Regions from separate parts of the Homo sapiens genome. Here region 2 is linked to region 1. The links come from fine-mapping of genetic effects on gene expression. A gene starts in region 1. The other region holds a variant in brackets. All regions are shown on one strand. Distances are between the middles of the regions.

What was found.
Region 2: its variant is fine-mapped to the expression of CC2D1A in non-classical monocytes (Schmiedel 2018, PIP 0.95).

Annotation. Positions count from the first base shown.
Region 1 is chr19:13,901,179-13,912,294 of GRCh38, forward strand. It overlaps CC2D1A (coiled-coil and C2 domain containing 1A), which reads left to right and starts at 5,023. Exons shown (of 29, transcript NM_017721.5): 1 at 5,023-5,323; 2 at 8,645-8,780. The coding sequence starts at 5,264. BRME1 (break repair meiotic recombinase recruitment factor 1) reads right to left here and starts at 4,939. Exons shown (of 9, transcript NM_001345843.2): 1 at 4,537-4,939; 2 at 3,684-3,735. The coding sequence starts at 3,714. RefSeq lists a silencer at 5,338-5,397.
Region 2 is chr19:13,921,306-13,932,421 of GRCh38, forward strand. CC2D1A (coiled-coil and C2 domain containing 1A) reads left to right here. Exons shown (of 29, transcript NM_017721.5): 15 at 2,028-2,150; 16 at 2,243-2,301; 17 at 2,390-2,506; 18 at 5,212-5,285; 19 at 5,362-5,420; 20 at 5,516-5,567; 21 at 5,673-5,772; 22 at 5,870-5,960; 23 at 6,588-6,725; 24 at 6,819-6,883; 25 at 8,074-8,137; 26 at 8,229-8,355; 27 at 8,773-8,849; 28 at 8,937-8,984; 1 more. The coding sequence ends at 9,090. It overlaps PODNL1 (podocan like 1), which reads right to left. Exons shown (of 10, transcript NM_001370095.3): 9 at 10,659-10,807; 10 at 9,882-10,582. The coding sequence ends at 10,432. Among named protein-coding and RNA genes, the nearest start is that of PODNL1, 12 kb to the right of the region's middle. RefSeq lists a silencer at 237-437. The variant G/A (reference allele first, on the strand shown) is at 5,984.

The sequences.
Region 1 (11,116 bases):
GTTGCTCAGGCTGGTCATGAACTCCTGGTCTCAGGCAATCCTTTCACCTCGGCCTCCCAAGTAGCCTGGAGTACAGGTGCGTACCACCAAGCCTGGCTATTTTGGGGTGTTTTTCTTTTCAAATGATGAAATTGTATAGGTATGTTGACAAGTAAACATGGTCATGATCTACCACAAAGTGAAAAATGGAGGTTGCAGATCAGTAAGTGTGATGATTCGATTTTCCAATAAAAACATTTTATCTGGGCCAGGCACGGTGGCTCATGCCTGTAATCTTTGGGAGGCTGAGGCAGGCGGATAACTTGAAGTCAGGAGTTAGAGAGCAGCCTAGCCAACATGGTGAAACCCCGTCTCTACTAAAAATGCAAAAATTTGCCAGGCATGGTGGCAGGTACCTGTAATCCCAGCTACTCAGGAGGCTGAGGCATGAGCATCACTTGAACCCAGGAGGCAGAGGTTACAGTGAACCAAAATCGTGCCACTGCACTCCAGCCTGGGTGACAGAGTGAGACTGTCTCCAAAAAAAAAAAAAAGAAAAAAGCTCAACACTGTATCTGTATATATACAGAAAAAGTCTGACCAGGCATGGTGGCTCATGCCTGTAATTCTGAGCACATTGGGAGGCCAAGGCAGGTGGACTGCTGGAGCCCAGAAGTTCAAGACCAGCCTGGGCAACATAGTGAGGCCTCGTCTCTTCCAAAAAATACAAAAATTAGCCAGTCATGGTGGCACACACCTGTAGTCCCAGCTATTCCGGAGGCTGAGGTGGGAAGATCACCTGAGCCTGGGGAGGTCGAGGCTGCAGCGAGCTATGATTGTGCCACTGCTCTCCAGCCTGGGCGACAAAGCAAGACTCTGTCTCGAAAAAAAGAAAAAAAAAAAAGCTGGGTATGGTGGCTCACTCCAGTAATCCCAGCACTTTGGCTGAGGCGGGCAGATCATGTGAGGCCAGGAGTTCAAGATCAGCCTGGGCAACATGGTGAAACCCCATCTCTACTACAAATACAAAAATTATCTGAGCGTGGTGGCAGACACCTGTAATCCCAGCTACTCAGGAGGCTGATGCAAGAGAATCGCTTGAAACCAGGAGGCGGAGGCTGCAGTGAGTCAAGATCGTGCCACTGCACTCCAGTCTGGGCAACAGAGTGAGACATCATCTTAAAAAAAAGTCTGAGCTGGGCGCGCTGGCTCATGCCTGTAATCCCAGCACTTTGGGAGGCCGAGATGGGCGGATCACCTGAGGTTGGGAGTTCGAGACCAGCCTGACCAACATGGAGAAACCCCATCTCTACTAAAAATACAAAAAAATTAGCTGGGCATGGTGGCATATGCCTGTAATCTCAGTTACTTGGGAGGCTGAGGCAGGAGAATTGCTTGAATCTAGGAGGCAGAGGTTGCGGTGAGCCGAGATCGCGCCAGCCTGGGCAACAAGATCAAGACTCTGTCTCAAAAACAAAAACAAAAAAGTCTGGGCTGGGCGCGGTGGCCTACTCCTGTATCCCCAGCACTTTGGGACACCAAGACGGGCAGATCACCTGAGGTTGGGAGTTCAAGACCAGCCTGACCAAACCCTGACTCTACTAAAAAAATACAAAAATTAGCTCAGCATGGTGGTGGGTGCCTGTAATCCCAGCTACTTGGGAGGCTGAGGCAGGAGAATCGCCTGAACTTGGGAGGTGGAGGTTGCAGTAAGCCGAGATCGCGCCACTGCACTCCAGCCTGGGCAACAAGAGCGAAACTCCGTCTCAAAAAAAAAAAAAAAAGTCTAGAAGCAGTGTACCGAGGTTAGAGTCCTGTCCTGTTTTTCATGCTGTTCTACAGTTGATCACTGTCCTATGGCTATGCTAGATGTCAACATTAGGGAAAGCTTGGAGAAGGGTAGCTAGAACTCTCTGAATTATTTTTGCAACTTTTCTTTAAGTCCCAGATTACTTCAAAATAAAAGTTTTCTTAAAAGTCTGGAAGAAGAATTGTTAACAGCAGTGTACATTTGTGTACTACCTTAGGTCAGTTCTGGGTGCTTTACAGATACTAATCCACATGTGAGCTCTAAGGGCAGGATTCTTCACCTTGGAGGACATTTGGGGCTGGATCATTCTCTGTGGCTGGGGGGCATCCTATGCATGGTAGGATATTTGAGCAGCATCCCTGGCCTCCACCCACTAGATGTCAGTATAATTTCCCCAGTTATGAAAACCAAAAAAAGTCTCTAGGCCGGGCACGGTGGCTCCCACCTGTAATCCCAGCACTTTGGGAGGCTGAGGCAGGCAGATCACCTGAGGTCAGGAGTTTGAGACCAGCCTGGCCAACATTGTGAAACCCTATCCCTACTAAAAATACAAAAATTAGGCGGGCGTGGTGGTGCACATCTGTAGTCCCAGCTACTTAGGAGGCTGAGGCTGCAGAATCGCTTGAACCCAGGAGGTGGAGGCTGCAGTGAGCCAAGATCTTGCTACTGCACTCCAGCCTGGACGACAGAGTCAGACTTGGTCTCCAAAAAAAAAAAAAATAAAGTCTCCAAACATTGCCAGCTGTCTCTGGAGGTCAAAATCCCTTCCTCTCACCTAGTTGAGAAACACTGCTCTAAAGGAAAGGGTAGTGGCTTTTATTATCCCCAATTTACAAAAGGGGAAACTGTGGCACAGAGGAAATCATCCACCACCACACACTGAGCAGAACTGGGATGAACCCAGGTTTTGGGCCCCAGAGTAAAACACTCAGCCACATACCGAGTGGCCTTGTAGTACATCAAGCATTATTCCAGGGGTCATCTCTGGGACTGGTTCCGCAGGGAGGCTGTCCCGCTGCCCTGAAGCCCGGGGAGGCCTCCTCTAAGCTGTGGGACCCCACCAGAGGCTTGCAGAAGCTCCAGAAAACTTTCACTTTTACTTTTCCTGTATGCCCTCTCCGTTATTTCTATTTTTCTTTCTTTCTTTTTTTTTTTGAGACAGGGCCTCAATCTATCAGTCAGGATGGAGTGCAGTGGTACGATCTGGATTCACTGCAACCTCCACCTCCCAGTTCAAGCAATCTTCCTGCCTCAACCTCCTGAGTAGCTGGGACTACAGGTGCCTGCCACCACGCCCAGCTAATTTCCTTACTTTACATTGTAGAGACAGGATCTCGCTATGTTGCCCAGGCTGGTCTTGAACTCCTGGACTCAAGCGATCCGCCCACCTCGGCCTCCCAAAGTGCTAGGATTACAGGCGTGAGCCACCACACCGGCCTTCTATTTTTCTTACCAGCATGAATTAAATCCTTTTTGTCTTTTTCTTTTTTTTGAGACAGAGTCTTGCTCTGTTGCCCAGGCTAGAGTGCAGTGGCACCATCTTGGCTCACTGCAACATCGGACTCCCAGGTTCAAACGATTCTCCTGCCTCAGTCTCCCGAGTAGGTGGGACTACAGGCATGTGCCACAACACCTGGCTAATTTTTGTATTTTTAGTAGAGACGGGGTTTCACCATGTTGGTCAGGCTGGTCTTGAACTCCTGACCTTGTGATCTGCCCGCCTCGGCCTCCCAAAGTGCTGAGATTACAGGTGTGAGCCACCGCACCCGGCCAATCCTTGCTTCCTTTTAAGGAGGTTAAGGCAGTCGTGTTAGCCAGATCTGCAATAAACAAGCCCACATTCTTCCCACAAGCAGAAGCAGAAATCAACAAGTGTCCATTTGAATGAACGTACCTGAGGTCCGCAGCTTCTTCCTCTTAGTCATTTTATCTTCCCCTTGAGAAATCTGAAAACAAGCAAAATCTCTCATCATTATAAGCAGTCTCTGTCTCTGTTTATATCCAGTGGCTTTGGCTGAGAGCAGAGGTTACCCCTACCTCCACCTCAGCCCATTTGGCTGCCCCAGGGGTCAGATGGCTCCCACTGGGACACAGGATGGGACACAGAGTCACAGCCACTTTGGGCCATGGCCAGGTAGGAATTCAAACCTCCTCCAAACTGAAGATCTTATGCCCAGGACCTGAAAGACAAATGGGCCCTGGGGGGTCCTTATAGATAGCCCCGGGGACCCAGACTCTGGTCCCTAGGATGAAACAGCCTGTGTGAAGCCCCTCCCTCCAGACTGGGGTATCTGGGGGCCCTTCCAAGGACACTTGAGGACTCTCCAGGGGCCTCTGGAGACCAGCCTGGCCAATATGGTGAAACCCCCTCTCTATTAAAAACACAAAAATTAGCCTGGGCATCGTGACGCACACCTGTAATCCCAGCTACTTGGGAGGCTGAGACAGTAGAATTCCTTGAACCCATGAGGCAGAGGTTGCAGTGAGCCGAGATCGCTCTACTGCACTCCAGCCTGGGCGACAGAGCGAGACTCCGTCTCAAAAAAAAAAAAAAAAATTAGTCAGGTGCGGTGGCACACACCCGTAATCCCAGCTACTCAGGAGGCTGTGGTACAAGGCCAGGAGGCAGAGGTTGCAATGAGCCAAGATCGTGCCACTTTAAAGGGGACAGCTGGGTCCTTGGAGGGGAAAGAGCTGCCATAGGCCGGTTTCTCCCAGCCTTGGGGGCGAGGCAAACCAGAACGGACCTGGGCCACAGAAGTCGTTGAGGACCCTCTGTCCTTATCAGAAACGAGCTCTGCCTGGATCAGTTGGGAATAAGTCGCTTGAATTATCCGCGTTACTCTTTTTGGAAAAAATAAATGGCCAAATTGGCCCTCACAGAACGCTGGAGGCCTCGAGTCCGGAGGTGAAAGATGGAAAGGCCTGAGGGTGGGCGCTGTAGACCCCGCTCCCGGTGACAAGCCCCACACTGACACTACGCCGACCACCGAGAAGTGAGGACTCCACAGGCCGAGAGCCCACGTGAAGCCGGAGCCCGTCGGTGACTGACAGACGCTCTGAACCCCACAGATGTCGCCGCCCCTCACACCTGCGCGCGCTCTGCCTCTTTCCCGCGCCCCGCGAGGTCCCGCCCCGCGCATGAGCGACGCAAACACCGCCCTCGCAGCCCGCGACAGTCAGCACCGCCCCAGCCAGGCGCCTGCGCGCCCACGCACTACCTGCCGGGAGTTGTAGTTTCGGCTCGGCAGACCCGGCGAGCCCAGTGGCCGCGCTCCGGTGCGGCGGCGCCCGAGGCCCGAGGCGGAAGTGGGACGGCCAAGCAGGGAAGCGAGGGCTCGGGATCGACGGCCGCGGGGCGCCGACGAGGAGTGCAGGACTCAGGAAGGGCGAGTGCGCGGCGACAGAGCCCGGGGAAGGAGGCAGGGCAAGGCCGGGCTTGGGGGCAGGTGGTCCGGGCATCCAGCCTTGAAGATGCACAAGAGGAAAGGACCCCCGGGACCCCCGGGCAGAGGCGCCGCGGCCGCCCGCCAGGTGAGTTTGCGCCCCACGGCCCGACCTGGGGATCCCTCCCCACCCCCGTCACTCGCTCAGGGAAGGGCCCCACCCCCCAGGGAAGCCCGATCTCCGCCCCACAGGTAAGCCCCGGTCCCCGCCTCCCCCCAGGTGAGGCTCCAACACCACCCAAGTGTGGCCTACTGGCCTTGGCTCCCCAGCTCCTGGGGCCCTGCCCCGGGTTCGGGGCCACCTGTTGCCACAGCTGCTCCAGTCGAGGAGGGGCAGTCCTCGGACTTGACACATCAAACCCTTGCATCAGTCGGGCCATGTCAGACTCTTTTTATTCCATTGTACAGATGAGGACTTTGAGACTCAGAGACGTGAAGACATCTGCCCAAGGTCATAGGGATTAACAGCTTGGCCAGGGCTAAGCACAAATCCAGGGCTGCAGCCATAAGCTTATGGCACTGTGGCTGGACCCCTTCTCACTCTCCCGACTTCTTTGCCCCAGGCACCAGATAGTTTGATTTTTCTCAGTTTTGATGGAAGGAGCCCAGGACATAGCTTGGTGTTCAGATATTAGAGTCTGGCTGACCTGAAGTTCCCTCCTGGCCTCTGTACATCGGACACTTGACTTTACAGCTCTGAGCCTCAGCTTTCTCATCTGTAAAATGGAGATCTCTATAATCCCAGCACTTCAGGAGATGGAGGCGGAGGCAGAGGTGGGAGAGTCATTTGAGGCCAGAGTTTGAGACCAGCCTGGGCAAAAGCAAGACCCCCGTCTCGACAAAAAAAGACTAACTGGGCATGGTGGCATGTGCCTGTAGTACTACTACTTGGGAGGCTAAGAAGGGAGGATTGCTTGAGCCCAGGAGTTCAAGACCGCAGTGAGCTATGATTGCGCTACTTCTGCTCCAGCCTGGGTGACAGAACAAGACTCTTTCTCTAAAATAAAGATAAAAAATTAAAAATGGAAGTCCGGGGTGGTGTCTCACACCTGTAATCCCAGCACTTTGGGAGGCCATGGCGAAACCCCATCTCTACTAAAAATACAAAAATTAGCTGGGCATGGTGGCGGGCACCTGTAATCCCAGCTACTCGGGAGGCTGAGGTGGGAGAATCGCTTGAACCGAGAGGCGGAGGTTGCAGTGAGCTGAGATCGCGCCACTGCATTCCAGACTGGGTGACAGAGCAAGGCTCCTTCTCAAAATAAATAAATAAATTCCTTCTGAAAATAAATAAATAAATAAAAAATTAAAAATGGAGACCTCCAAGAGACCCTACATTACAGGACAGTTGTAGAGAGTCATTGAGATAGTTTATGGAAAGTGCTAGAACATAGCACTCAATAAATGTTACTATTATCATTATTACTAGTTGGTGGAACCATACATAATTGCCAATATTTGGCCATTTTTTACCTACAGGAAAGGCAATTTCATATGGTTAAACACGATGTTATCACATCATGATTGGTCATTAGCCAAGATAGGAAGACGGGTCTGCATGGCAAACCTGCATTGTGGTTAGGGGTTCTTTTTTTGTTTGTTTGTTTTTGAGACAGAGTCTTGCTCTCTCGCCCCAGGCTGGAGTGCAGTGGCGCAATCTCGGCCCACTGCAACCTCCGCTTCCCGGGTTCAAGCGATTCTCCTGCCTCAGCCTCCCGAGTAGCTGGGATTACAGGCATGCGCCACCATGCCTGGTTAATTTTGTATTTTTTAGTAGAGACGGGGTTTCTCCCTGTTGGTCAGGCTGGTCTGTCTCGAACTCCCCATCTCAGGTGACCCGCCTGCCTCGGCCTCCCAAAGTGCTGGGGTTACAGGCGTGAGCCACCGTGCCCGGCCTAATTTTTGTATTTTTAGTAGTGATGGGATTTCACCATGTTGGCCAGGCTAGTCTCGAACTGCTGACCTCAGGTGATCCCCCCACCTTGGTCTCCCAAAGTGCTGGGATTACAAGCGTGAGCCACTGCACCTGGCCCTGTCGTCAGGGCTTCTAATTGCTCTTCTTTTTTTTTTGGAGACAGAGTCTTGCTCTGTTGCCCAGGCTGGAGTTTGGTGGCGCAATCTCAGCTCACTGCAACCTCCACCTCCCAGGTTCAAGCAATTCTCCTGCCTCAGCCTCCCGAGTAGCTGGGATTGCAGACACCGCCAGCACTCCCAGCTAATTTTTGTATTTTTAGTAGAGACGGGGTTTCACCATGTTGGCTAGGCTGGTCTCGAACTCCTGGATTACAGGCGTGAGCCACCGCATGCAGCCATCATGCTCTTGAAGCCCAACCTTCCCACACAGCCCCTCTGCTGAGGATGCTGGAAAGAAAAGCCCAAGTGTACAGAGTAGCTTTGCTTTGGGCAAAGTGTGGAGCCTGCTTCCTTCCCTCCTTCCCTCCCTCCCTCGCTTCCTTCTTTTTTTCCTTCCTTCCCTCCTTCCTCCCTCCCTCTCTCCCTCCCCGGCTCCATCTCTCTTTCTTTCTTTCCTTTCAACAGGGCTTTACTCTGTTGCCCAGGCGGAGTGCCGTAGCACAGTCATGGCTCACTGCAGCCTTGATCTCCCCAGGCTCAAGTGATCCTCCTGCCTCAGCCTCCCGAGTAGCTGGGACCACAGGCACACAGCACAACTCCCAGCTAATTTTAAAAAGTTTTTTTTCCTGTAATCCCAGCACTTTGGGAGGCCGAGGCGGGCAGATCATGAGGTCAGGAGATCGAGACCATCCTGGCTAACAAGGTGAAACCCCGTCTCTGCTAAAAATACAAAAAAAAAATTAGCCGGGCGTGGTGGCGGGCGCCTGTAGTCCCAGCTACTCGGGATGTTGAGGCAGGAGAATGGCATGAACCCCGGAGGCGGAGGTTGCAGTGAGCTGAGACTGCACCACTGCACTCCAGCCTGGGTGACAGAGCGAGACTCTGTGTCAAAAAAAAACAAAAAACAAAAAACTTTTTTTTTTTTTGTAGAGTTGGGGGTCTCACTGTATTGCCCAGGCTGGTCTGGAACTCCCAGACACAAGCCATCCTCTTGCCTTGGCCTCCCAAAGTGCTGGGATGACAGGCGTGAGCCACTGCGCCCAGCCAGGGGCCTGCTTTTCCCACTGAACTTGGCCCAGCAGCACATCATAAGTGTGGATTCAGATCAGAGAGCTGGGTCTCTTGCCCTTTGCCCCAGGTTGAACTGTGCCAGAGGGCCTGGCCTATCTTGGAACACCTGTTCTGGGCTTGTTCCAGCCTCCTGGCACTCCCCAGGGAAATGGCTTTCCCTGGGAGACCTTGTTTCCTTCCTCCCAAGGGGACTCTCTGGCCATCATGGCTGCCTCTAGCCATGTGGTGAACCAAAGGTCTGACTGAACCCTTGCTGTTCCCCTAGCTGGGCCTGCTGGTTGACCTCTCCCCAGATGGCCTGATGATCCCTGAGGACGGGGCTAACGATGAAGAACTGGAGGCTGAGTTCTTGGCTTTGGTCGGGGGCCAGCCCCCAGCCCTGGAGAAGCTCAAAGGCAAAGGTGAGATGGTTAACACACCCTCAGAACATTTTCTGATCTCCTGCAAGTGGTTCGGGCGCAGAACTGGGGGCACTGGGTAGGTAGGGGAAAGAAGACAGAGAAGACCCCTGTTCTCCTGGAGCCAATGATCTGGGTAAGAGAGTCAAGATCGACTCTGAGGCCGGGCACGGTGGCTCACGCCTGTAATCCCAGCACTTTGGGAGGCCGAGGCAGGCAGATCATGAGGTCAGGAGATTGAGACCATCCCGGCTAACACGGTGAAACTCTGTCTCTACTAAAAATACAAAAAAAAAAAAAAAATTAGCCGGGCGTGGTGGCGGGCGCCTGTAGTCCCAGCTACTCAGGAGGCTGAGGCAGAAGAATGGCGTGAACCAGGGAGGCGGAGCTTGCAGTGAGCCGAGATCGCACCACTGCGCTACAGCCTGGGCGACAGAGCAAGACTCCGTCTCAAAAAAAAAAAAAAAAAAAAAAAGATCAAGTCTGGACCGAGACTGAGAGTTGGAATCCGAGCTCTGCCACTTACTGGTTATGTGACTTGATGAGTCACATCATGTGCTTTGGCCTCAGTTTCACCATCTGTAAAACTGGAATAATAACCATGTTATAGGAGTTAATCTGGAGTCCATAAGTATTTCACCCAGGGCCCCCTCACACACAATAAGCTCATGTCAGCCAGGCACATTGGCTCATGCATGTAATCCCAGCACTCTGGGAGGCCAAGGTGGACAGATCACTTGGGGCCAGGAGTTCGAGACCAGCCTGGCCAACATGGTGAAACCCTGTCTTTACTAAAAATACAAAAATTAGCCAAGCTTGGTGGCGAACACCTGTAATCCCAGCTACTTGGGAGGCTGAGGCATGAGAATCGCTTGAATCCAGGAGGCAGCAGTTGCAGTGGGCAGAGATTGCGCCACTGCACTCCAGCCTGGGTGACAGAGCAAGATCCTGTTTCCAAAAAACAAAAAAGAGAGAAGCTTCATTCAGGCATGAACTACTGTGCTGTTGGCTGTGAATTCAAAGTTAATGAATGAACGATATCTATTCAGGAAGGTGTCTTCAAACAGAAACACACATAGAGCAAGGTTGTGTATTGATCAGTTGATTAAAATTTTGTGACCAGAGCTGGGTGTGGTGGTGCATGCCTGTAATCCCAGCTACTCGGGAGGCTGAGGCAGGAAGATCACTTGAGGCCAAGAGTTTGAGGCTGCAGTGAGCTCTGATTGGGCCACTGCACTCCAGCCTGGGTGACAGAGCAAGATCCTGTCTCCAAAAAAGGTTATGACTGGAGATTCACAGGAACCTAAGCTTAAATTTCCCCTAGGAGCAACAGTCTTATAGTCATTAATTTAGTCTTCAAAGCAGCTTTATAGAATGTAACATAACTAATAACAAGATATTGGCAATATGCTATTCTAAGAGCTTCATTGACCTTCTCTGCTCCAACCTACCTATGAAGGAGGAACTGTTGTCATCCCCGTGTCACAGAGGGAGAAACTGAGGCTCAGAGAGGTGACATCACTTGCCGAAGTTCTCACAGAGAGAAAGTTGCAGAGCTGGGGTTTTTTTTGTTGTTGTTGTGTGTGTGTGTTTTTTTTTTTTTTTTTGGAGACAAACCCTTGCTCTGTTGCCCAGGCTGCAGTGCAGTGGCGCAATCTCAGCTCACTGCGACCTCTGCCTCCTGGGCTTAAGTGATTCTCCTGCCTCAGCCTCTTTAGCAGCGGGGATTACACGCCACCATGCCCAGCTAATTTTTTTTTTTTTTTTTTTTTTTTTTTGAGACGGAGTCTCGCTCTGTCGCCCAGGCTGGAGTACAGTGGCGCGATCTTGGCTCACCGCAAGCTCCGCCTCCTAGGTTCACGCCATTCCCCTGCCTCAGGCTCCCGAGTAGCTGGGACCACAGGCGCCCGCCAGCATGCCTGGCTAATTTTTTGTATTTGTAGTAGAGACGGGGTTTCACCGTGTTAGCCAGGATGGTCTCGATCTCCTGACCTTGTGATCCACCCGCCTCGGCCTCCCAAAGTGCTGGGGTTACAGGCGTGAGCCACTGCGCCCAGCCTAATTTTTGTATTTTTAGTAGAGACAGGGTTTCACCATGTTGGCCAGGCTGGTCTTGAACGCCTGACTTCAAGTGATCCTTCTGCCTCGGCCTCCCAAAGTGCTGGGATTATAGGCGTGAGTCACTGTGCCCGGTCTGCAGAGCTGGGTTTTGAATTCAGGTAGCCAGGCCCCAGACCTGAGGCTGAATAAGGAAGAGATGAAATGGGGAAGTCAGCGAGAAGTGGGATCACCTAGCGTGTCCAGGATGGGAAATGGGGGCTCTTGGTGTACGACCCTGG
Region 2 (11,116 bases), 20 kb after region 1:
GTAACATGGCCACATTTAGCCACAGAGGAGGCTGGGACATGTAGTCTCTTGTTGGTGCACTGTGTGACCAGCCTGAGCTCCATTACTAGGGAAGGGGAGGGGATCAGATCTGGGGAGACACTTAGATTCTGCCACTTAGGACAGGACCATTCCTTTTTCTCTGAGCATCATTTTTCTCAGAGAAGTGGGGATGGCCACCCCTGCCTCAAAGAAAGACAGCCAGGATTCCTCATGTGATAGAATAGTACTCATAATAGGAAACATTTGAGGAGCTTGAACTGGGCGCCCAGCAAAGGCCACCCAGTTTAAGGAAGTGACATCACTTTTGCTTGCCTCCCATTGGCCCAAACAGTCACATGGCTACATTTAGCCTCAGAGGAGCCTGGGACATGTAGTCTTTGCTGGACACTGGAGACATGGCCTTGAGCAAAAAAGGCAAAAATCCACACTCTCTCTGGACATGGTGGGTCACACCTGTAATTCCAGCTACTTGGGAGGCTGAGGTGGGAGGATTCCTTGAGGCCAGGAGCTCGAAACTAGCCTGGGAAACACAGTGAGACTCACTGTCATGGAGTGGATGTTCTAATTGAGAGACCACAAGAAACACACAAATAAATACAGCACCTTATCACGGCCCATGAAGACTGCACCATCTGCCCCATCAGCTCCCTTGCCTGGTCTCTTTCTTGTTTTTGTTTTGTTTTGTTTTGTTTTGAGACGGAGTCTCGCCCTGTCATCCAGGCTGGAATGCAGTGGCACGACCTCAGCTCACTGCAACCTCTACCTCCCAGGCTCAAGCGATTCTCCTGCCTTAGCCTCCCGAGTAGCTGGAACTACAGGCACACGCCACCATGCCCGGCTAATTTTTATATTTTTAGTAGAGATGGGGTTTCACTATGTTGGCCAGGCTGGGCTTGAACTCCTGACCTCAGGCAATCCACCTGCCTCGACCTCCCAAAGTGCTGGGATTACAGGCATGAGCCACTGTGCCCGGCCTGCCCCTTCTCTTTCACCCACCCCCTCGCTCACTCTTCCCCTTGCTGTCTGGTAGCCTCAAACACCAGGCACTCTGCAACCTCAGGGCCTTTGCACATGCAGTTCCCACTGCCTGAATGCTTTTCCCACAGACACCTGTGTGGTTCACTTTCTCCCATCATTAGGTCTCTGCTCAGACATCACATCTCCAGGAGGCCTACCCTGAGCTGTCTAAAATCCCTCCCTGTCACCCAGATCCCTCTGCTCCTCCTCCCAGCTCTGCCTCTCCCTGTGGCATGTATCACCTTCTACTCTCTCATATGATTTACTTATTTCTTCTGATTATTGCCCATCTCCCCCAAGAGAATGTCAGCCCCACGAGGGCAGGGATTTTGTTCTCTCTTCTTCATCCTTGTGTCCCCAGCCCCAAAGCAGAGCCTAGCGCACAGTAGGGGCTCCATACATGATTTCTCAAACTCTTGAGCTCAAGCAATCCACCCGCCTTAGCCTCCCAAAGTTCTGGGATTATAGACATGAGCCACTGCACCCGGCACCATACATGATTTCTGGGGTGACTGAAGGATGCCCTTGTTAAATGGGACAATGGAAGGATCAAGAAGAAAGAACAGAGGCCGGGCATGGTCTTTCATGCCTGTAATCCTAGCAATTAAGGAGGCCAAGGCCAGCGGATCACTTGAGGTCAGGAGTTCGAGACCAGTCTGGCCAACATGGTGAAACCCTGTCTCTACTAAAAATACAAAAATTAGCCAGGTGTGGTGGCAGGCGCCTGTAATTCCAGCTACTCAGGAGGCTGAGGCAGGAGAATCACTTGAACCCGGGAGGTGGAAGTTGCAGTGAGCTGAGATCCCGCCATTGCACTCCAGCCTGGGCAACAGAGCGAGACTCCATCTCAAAAAAAAAAAAAGACCAGAGAAGGGTGACAGAGCCGTGGTCAGGGAATGCCCCTCGTCAAGGAAGAATGACATTTCTGCAGAGCCCTAGGTGGGCCTGCTTGTCCTCCTTACCCCCGCCACCAGCCTCGTCCTCCCCAGGTGCCGCCTGCCCCTGTCAACAAGGACGACTTTGCCCTGGTCCAGCGGCCTGGCCCGGGTCTGTCTCAGGAGGCCGCCCGGCGCTATGGTGAACTCACCAAGCTCATACGGCAGCAGCACGAGGTGAGGGGGAGGCCCCCAGCCCATCCCCCAGGAGCGTGACCCTCCTTCCCCTCTCTTCCCTTCCCTCGACTCACTGCCTTCTGTTTCCCCAGATGTGCCTGAACCACTCAAACCAATTCACCCAGCTGGGCAACATCACTGAAACCACCAAGTAAGTGCCCTGACCTGTGCCAGACACTTGCACCCCCAGCCACCCATCCCCAGGGCCAGGGACATGAGCAGGGCCCTCCCACCGGCAGGTTTGAAAAGTTGGCGGAGGACTGTAAGCGGAGCATGGACATTCTGAAGCAAGCCTTCGTCCGGGGTCTCCCCACGCCCACCGCCCGCTTTGAGCAAAGGACCTTCAGCGTCATCAAGTAAGGCTCCTGATCTACGCCCCACCACGTGGCCCCAGTGGCCCTTTGGTGGCGGTGGGGCGGGTTGTGCTCCCCAGAAGCTGGCACAAGATTTACATCTGGAAGAAATTTTGGATAGGTGGAAGAGCACAGAGCATGCAAAGGCTCTGGGGCAGGCATGAGATACAAGTGAAGGATGGTGAGGGTGCAGTCACAGTGACGCATTTGGGAAAGATCTAGAGAGTGCAAAGGTGTATCTTGTCCCAGGGCCTGGGTGAGTCCACGGGGGACCAGAGATGAGTCACGGCTTTGGTGGGTGTTAGTCTTGGTACTATCAAGTCTTCCCATGCCCAGAGGAGCGGGGATTGTTTTCTCCACTTTATTTTTATTTTTATTTTGAGACAGAGTCTCACTCTGTTGCCCAGGCTGGAGTGCAGGGGTGTGATCTCTGCTCACTGCAAGCTCCACCTCCTGGATTCATGCCATTCTCCTGCCTCAGCCTCCCGAGAAGCTGGGACTACAGCCGCCCACCACCACGCCTGGCTAATTTTTTGTATTTTTAGTAGAGACGGGATTTCACCGTGTTAGCCAGGATGGTCTCGATCTCTTGACCTCGTGATCCGCCCACCTCGGCCTCCCAAAGTGCTGGGATTACAGGCGTGAGCCACCACTCCCGGCCTTTTTTAAAATTTTTTTTCTGAGACAGTCTCACTTTGTCACCCAGGCGGGAGTACAGTGGCGCAATCTCAGCTCACTTCAACCTCTGCCTCCCAGGTTCAAGCAATTCTCCTGCCTCAGCCTCCCAAATAGCTGGGACTACAGGTGCCCACCACCATGCCCAGCTAATTTTTGTATTTTTAGTAGAGACGGGGTTTCATTCAGTTGGCCAGGCTGGTCTCCTTAAATGATCCGCCTGCCTTGGCCTCCCAAAATTCTGGGGTTACAGGAGTGAGCCACTGCGTCCGGCCCATTTTCTCCACTTTCTAAATGAGGTTAGGTGCAGCCACTAGCCCTCCGGTGGTTCCCAGCTGCCCTTGGGATAACCCCCACCCCTTACCCTGGCTCCCCCATCTCCACACAGCCTGGCTCCTTGTCACCTCTTCTCTGCCTCCTGTCCCCGCTTCACTCAGCTTTGGCCACAAGGGACTCTTTTTGGTCCCTCCTACAAACAAAGTGTGTTCCTACCCCAAGCCTCTGCATCAGCTATTTCTTCCGCCTTCACCCTCTTCCTCAGGTCTCCATGTGGCAGCTCCCTCTTGACATCTAGAGTCACCTATGATGTCACCTTCCCTCTAAGAGGCCCTCCCTATCTATCCGAGCAGTCTCTTCTGAGCACACTCCACTCTCCCCTCTCTGCTGAGTTTTTTATTGTTTTTCTATTTATGTACTTATGCTCATCTGTCCACTCAGCTAGATTGAGCACAGGGTATGGGTATTTACTTCTAGATCCCCAGCAGCTAGGGTACTGACTGGCACATAGTAGGTGCTCAAGAAATATTGTGAAATGAGGCCAGGCGTGCTGGCTCACGCCTGTAATCCCAGCACTTTGGGAGGCTGAGGTGGGTGGATCACGAGGTCAGGAGATCGAGACCATTCTGGCTAACATGGTGAAATCCCGTCTCTACTAAAAATACACAAAATTATCCGGGCGTGGTGGTAGGCGCCCATAGTCCCACCTTCTTAGGAGGCTGAGGCAGGAGAATGGCATGAACCTGGGAGGCAGAGCTTGCAGTGAGCAGAGATCGCACTGCACTCCAGCCTGGGCGACAGAGTGAGACTGTCTCAAAAAAAAAAGAAATATTGTGAAATGAATAGAAGGTCCCCCAGCAACTAGGACACTAGCTGGTGCTTTAATAGGACTCAAAAAATATTAAGTGAGGCCAGGCTGGGAGGCCAAGGCAGGCGGATCATTTGAGGTCGGGAGTTCGAGACCAGCCTGGCCAACATGGTGAAACCCCATCTCTACTAAAAATATAAAAATTATCCAGCAGTGGTGGCGGGCAGCTGTAATCCCAGCTACTCAGGAGGCTGAGGCAGAAGAATCTCTTGAATCTGGGAGGTGGAGGTTGCAGTGGGCTGAGGTCGTACCATTGTACTCCAGCCTGGGCGACAGAGCAAGACTCTGTCTAAAAAAAAAAAAAAAATATATATATATATATATATATATATACACGTATATATATGTGTATATATATATACATATATGTGTGTATATATATATATACGTATATATATGTGTATATATATATATATACACGTATATATATGTATATATACACACACACACACACACACACATATATATTAAGTGAAAAGAAGGTCCCCCAGCAGCTGGGGTACTGGCTGGCACATAGTAGGTGCTCAAGAAACATTGGGAAATGAAGGAAAGATCTCCCAGCAGCTAGGGCACTGGCTGATGCTTAGTAGGACTCAACAACTGTTAAGTGAAGGGAATATCACCCAGCAGCTAGGGTACCTAGCACACAGTAGATACCAAATAAATATACACAGACTGAAGAAAAGACTCGAAAGTGATCCATTGCCAACCTGAACAGAGAACTCTAGTCTGTCTGATTCTAAAATGAGCCCAGGAGCTGAGACACCCCCGAAGGCCAGGGTGGGGTTTGTTCCCTGCCCCCACTGGGGGAAGAGAAGGCAGGCGGGCAGTGGGACTGAGGTGCCTCTGTTTCCCTGCCCACCTGCCTGCCCACCTGCCCACCCGGAAGGATCTTCCCTGACCTCAGCAGCAACGACATGCTCCTCTTCATCGTGAAGGGCATCAACTTGCCCACACCCCCAGGTGAGGGGGCTGTAGGCAAGGGTCAGGGTCATGGGGACCCCCTCTCTGCCCAGCTCTGACCGTTGTTTGCCCACAGGACTGTCCCCTGGCGATCTGGATGTCTTTGTTCGGTTTGACTTCCCCTATCCCAACGTGGTACGTGGGGAGCTGAGGAGGGGAGGGCTGCAGCCTCAGTGGGCCAAAGCCAGGTCCCAGGCCCCCTAGATTTCCTGCCTCCTCTCTGGTCATAGGAAGAAGCTCAGAAAGACAAGACCAGTGTGATCAAGAACACAGACTCCCCTGGTGAGCCTCGGCTGGAAGCACCCTACCCCTACTCCCTTGCAGCAGAAGGGACATAAGACAATGGCCTGACCCCACCCAACTTCCTCTCCCTCCTTCCTCCTGCAGAGTTCAAGGAGCAGTTCAAACTCTGCATCAACCGCAGCCACCGTGGCTTCCGAAGGGCCATCCAGACCAAGGGCATCAAGTTCGAAGTGGTTCACAAGGGGTGAGCTAGAGAGAGCCATGGCCGCTGGGTGGGCTCCAGGGGAGGGGAGCTCCTCTGAACCAACCATCCTGTCCCCACTATACACACATGCACACAGGGGGCTGTTCAAGACTGACCGGGTGCTGGGGACAGCCCAGCTGAAGCTGGATGCACTGGAGATAGCATGTGAGGTCCGGGAGATCCTTGAGGTGAGAGGTGGACATTCATCCGC[G/A]TGCTCCGGTATGGCCATGCTACTCGTTAACATTATTAAAACACTTCCTGCCTTGAGCCCTCTATGAGCCTGTCTGTTGACCCAGCCCCTCCCCTCAGAGCCTCAGACCTCCCTACTGCCCAGCCCTAAATACTTGCAGTACCCCACTCCATTATGATCAACTGGTATCTCAGCCATACCATGGGCTCATATTTTAGAAACCACTCTTGGCCAGGCATGGTGGCTCATGCCTGTAATCCCAGCACTTTGGGAGGCTGAGGCGGGCAGATCACGAGGTCAGGAGATCGAGACCATCCTGGCTAACATGGTGAAACCCTGTTTCTACTAAAATACAAAAAAATTAGCCAGGCATGGTGGCGGGCGCCTGTAGTCCCAGCTACTCGGGAGGCTGAGGCAGGAGAATGGCGTAAGTAAACCCAGGAGGCGGAGCTTGCAGTGAGCCCAGATTGCACCACTGCACTCCAGCCTGGACAACAGAGCGAGACTCTATCTCAGAAAAAAAAAAAACCAAAAAAAAAAACCAGTCTTGTTCTCCCTTGTCCTGGCCCTGGGCCTCTAGTCACTTCCTGCTTCCCACCAACAGTTTCTCCTTACCCCCACCCAGGTCCTGGATGGTCGCCGGCCCACAGGGGGGCGACTGGAGGTAATGGTCCGGATTCGGGAGCCACTGACAGCCCAGCAGTTGGAGACGACGACAGAGAGGTGGCTGGTCATTGACCCTGTGCCGGCAGCTGTGCCCACAGTGAGACCCCCCACCCCCACCCATCAGCAACCCCAGGGAGGGAAGCTTGGTTCAGGGGCCCAGGACTCACAGGACTGGTTCTCTCCTCTGAAGCAGGTTGCTGGGCCCAAAGGGAAGGCCCCTCCTGTGCCTGCCCCTGCAAGGGAGTCAGGGAACAGGTAGGTATCTGGGCCAGGGCATGCTGGAGAAAACACCCAATTCCCCTCTCAGCCCCACCTGGACAGTTTCCCACCAGGCACAAATTGGACCACGTCCCTCTCCTGCTGCAAAACCTTTCTTGGCACCCCTTTTCCCAGAGGATCCAGTTTAAACTCCTTGGTTTGGTCTTTAAAACCTTTTGTGATCTGACCATTGTCAACATATCCAGGCTTCTCTCTCCCTACTCCCTCCTGTGGTTCATGTCCATGAATAGTTTTCACTGGCCTCTGGACTTCTGTGGGTTCCAGTGCCCTGAACACCCCTACCTAGGGTAGGGGTGTTCCTTGTTCCTCTGCCCACCTCTGATTCCTTCTTTGGATCCCAACTTGGCTGTTACCTCCTCCAGGAAGCCCTCCCTGACCACTAGGCATCATAGTTTCCTGGGTGTGCAGCCATCATCCCCGCTAGGTTTTGGGATCAGTAACACCGGGTGGTTCTCGGCTGTCTCCCACCATACCCCCAGTGCCCAGTGTGTCTTTTTTTTTTTTTTTTTTTTTTGAGACAGAGTCTAGCTCTGTCGCCCAGGCTAGAGTGCAATGGCGCGATCTCAGCTCACAGCAACCTCCGCCTCTGGGGTTCAAGCGATTCTCCTGCCTCAGCCTCCTGAGTAGCTGGGATTACAGGCATGCGCCACCACACCCAGCTAATTTTTCTATTTTTAGTAGAGATGGGGTTTCTCCATGTTGGTCAGGCTGGTCTCGAACTCCCGACCTCAGGTGATCTGCCTGCCTCGGCCTCCCAAAGTGCTGGGATTACAGGCATGAGCTACCATGCTCGGCTTTTTTTTTTTTTTGAGACAGAATCTTGCTCTGTCACCCAGGTTGGAGTGCAGTGGTGTGATCTCGGCTCATTGCAACCTCCAGCTCCCAGGTTCAAGCAATTCTTCTGCCTCAGCCTCCCAAGTAGCTGGGACTACAGGAGCACACCACCATGCCCAGCTAATTTTTTTTCTATTTTTAGTAGAGACGGGGTTTCACCATATTGGCCAGGCTGGTCTCGAACTCCTGACCTCATGATCCACTCACCTCCGCCTCCCAAAGTGCAGGGATTACAGGCGTGAGCCACTGTGCCCAGCCCAGTGTGTCTTTTGAATTAACAGGGTTGGGCTGGGGGAATCTCTGCAGTCCCTTATCCTTCCTCCACCCCTTAGATCAGCCCGGCCCCTGCATAGCCTCAGTGTGCTGGCGTTTGACCAAGAGCGTCTGGAGCGGAAGGTGGGTATCCATCCTGCCGGGCTACATGGGGCAGGACTGGGGAGTCTGCAGGCCCAGGCAGGATCCTCACAGGACCCTCTGTATCCTCTAGATCCTGGCCCTCAGGCAGGCGCGGCGGCCGGTGCCCCCAGAAGTGGCCCAGCAGTACCAGGACATCATGCAACGCAGCCAGTGGCAGAGGGCACAGCTGGAGCAGGGGGGTGTGGGCATCCGACGGGGTAGGGGTTTGGAGATGGGCATCTGGTGGGGGAGGAGCTCCAGGATAGGCATGGGGGGGGAGGTGCTCAGGGATGCATATCTGGTGGGGGAGGGGCTCGGGGATGGGCATCTGGAGAGGGAGGGGCTCGGGGATGGGCACCTGGAGGGGGAGGGGCTCGGGGATGGGCACCTGGAGGGGGAGGGGCTCGGGGATGGGCATCTGGAGAGGGAGGGGCTCGGGGATGGGCACCTGGAGGGGGAGGGGCTCGGGGATGGGCACCTGGAGGGGGAGGGGCTCGGGGATGGGCACCTGGAGGGGGAGGGGCTCGGGGATGGGCACCTGGCGGGGGACGGGCTTGGGGATGGGCACAGTCCAGGAGGGTTGTGGGCAGTGAGGCCCCACCCTAAGCCTCCATTCCCCCGCCATCCATTCTCAGAATACGCAGCCCAGCTGGAGCGGCAGCTGCAGTTCTACACGGAGGCTGCCCGGCGCCTGGGCAACGATGGCAGCAGGGTGAGCTGGTCGCGGGCCGGGTGGGCACTGGGCAGCGGGCAGGGTGGGGCCTGCAGGGACTACCTGCTGAATGCCCATCCCCCACAGGATGCTGCAAAGGAGGCGCTCTATAGGCGGAATCTGGTAGAGAGTGAGGTAAGCAGCTTAGGAGATGGGGTGGTTGGGGGATCACTGTGGTCGTAGCCCACCTCCATGACCCCAGTGGCCTCCTCTCCCCCAGCTGCAGCGGCTCCGCAGGTGAGGAGCCCATGGGGCGGGCAGCCCCCAGAAAGCGGGCAGCAGGCCCCGATACCGGGAAGAGCCGACACAGCCACGAACCAGACAAGCAGACAATCAGCGGACAATCGGTTCTGGACTCACCCCTCATCCGGGCCCCCAGCCCCGCCAGAGCCTCCGTGGCTGCGGGTGTTGGGAACCATGCCTGCCAGCCAGTATGTGCCCCTCACCCAGGCCTGGCTGGGCCCTGGAGAGTCCTGTTTGCACAGCCCAGGGGTGTCCGGCCTCTGGCCCGCCCCGGAGCAGGGAGGGTGGCTGGGGCCAAGCCCCGAGGGCCCCTGCAAGCACTTTACTTCCTGTTCCTCCCCAGCCTTAACCCCAAAGCCCTCCTGCACCCCAAAGAAGCCACTGAGGCTGGCCGAGCCACACTGTCTCCCCAGGGGCGTCGACCTGGCCCAGCTGGGTCCCCAGGGCCAGCACATGGAATAAAATAGCCAGGGCCACACTCAGCCCAGCTCTGTCCTGTCTGTTTCTTGCTCAGACCCTCGGTGGCCAGGCTAGGTCTTCCCACCCACCCCCCGGTTCCCCTGGAAGTGGATGGGGAGGCGCCTGTTAGGGAAGCAGTTTTGGGGAGGGACAGTGTGCTTGTGAAAGGTGCTTTTTTTTTTTTTTTTTAGAGACCGGGTTTCCCTCTGTCACCCAGGCTGCAGCGCAGTGGCACAATCAGCTCATTGCAGCCTCCGACTCCTGGGCTCACATGATCCTCCTGCCTCAGCCTCCTAACGGATTACAGAAGGGCACCACCACACACCCAGCTTGAAGGATGCATTTCATTCCCATGCTTGCTGTGGGGGGGGATACATGTGAGGGTCCCTATATCTGTCACCCAGTGTTTTTTCAGTGGGTGGCCTTGGGCGTCCCTGCAATCACACGTGGCTAGGTCGCACAGGGTGCTGTTTGGTGACCCCAGTGTGTGCCTCAAGACCTCAAAATTCAGTCCTGACCCACTTAGCATCCCAGAGCCTCAGTTTCCCCAGCTGGACTGGTTGTGGGGAGGAGTCCGTGGACAGAGCCCCCAAAGGGTGCCTGGTCCGTGCTGAGTGCTGGAAGGGTTTGGCTTTATTGTTGCTGCCTCCATCTGTGTTGGGAGTTTGGGGTAGGGTGTGTCCCGCCAGGCCGGCGTGGTCTGTGAGCCTGGAGTATGCCAGCTGTGTGCCTCTGTGTCTCGGCCAGTGGCAGGCAGAGCAGGCCCAGCCCTGGAGGCCCAGGAGAGCCAGACCAAGGGCCCCTGGTGGGCGTTGTCTCCTCAGTCCACGGCCCAGCGGAGTCCCAGGAGTCTGAGCTGCTCTGCTGGGCCTCTCTAGGATCAGGGGCCCCCTGCCCGTGGCCCACGTGGGGTGGTGGGAGGCAGCCGGATCAGGACCTGCTCCGGATTCCCTGCCGTGTCCACCACACGCAGGTTTGGGAGCCCCAGGAAGGCCTCAGCCGCGATGCTCGTCATGTGAAGCCTGTTGGCCCTGCACAGAGAGGCGGTCATGACCCTCCCAGGCCCTCCCCTGCCCACCTCCACCCCTCCGGTCACCCTCGGGGCACCTGAGGAAGAGGGCACGCAGGCGGGGTGTGCTGAGGAAGGCCTCGGGGCCCACGTGGCCGATGCGGTTGCCCTCGAGGTGCAGCTCCTCTAGGGCCTCAGGCAGGTCCGGGGGCACAAAGGACAGCTCATTGTGGCTGAGGTCCAGCATCTGGGCAGGGGGTTATAGATGGCATCGTGGCAGCCCCAGGCCTGGGCCACTCAGCTCAGCCAGCCCCCAACCTCTCTGAGAGTCCCCTGCCCCCTTCATACCAGCCTGGCCCTTCTGCCCCCCACCCCCCATGATTGCCAAATTCCTCCCTTCTGCAGAGGTAAACTAAGGCCCTTCCCAGGAAGGCACAGACAGACAGGTCCCCACTTGATTAAATGAGTCAGTCATTGAATCGCACCATACCTCTTTCATCACTTTTTTTTTCAAGAGACAGGGTCTTGCTCTGTTGCCCAGTCTAGAGGGCAGTGG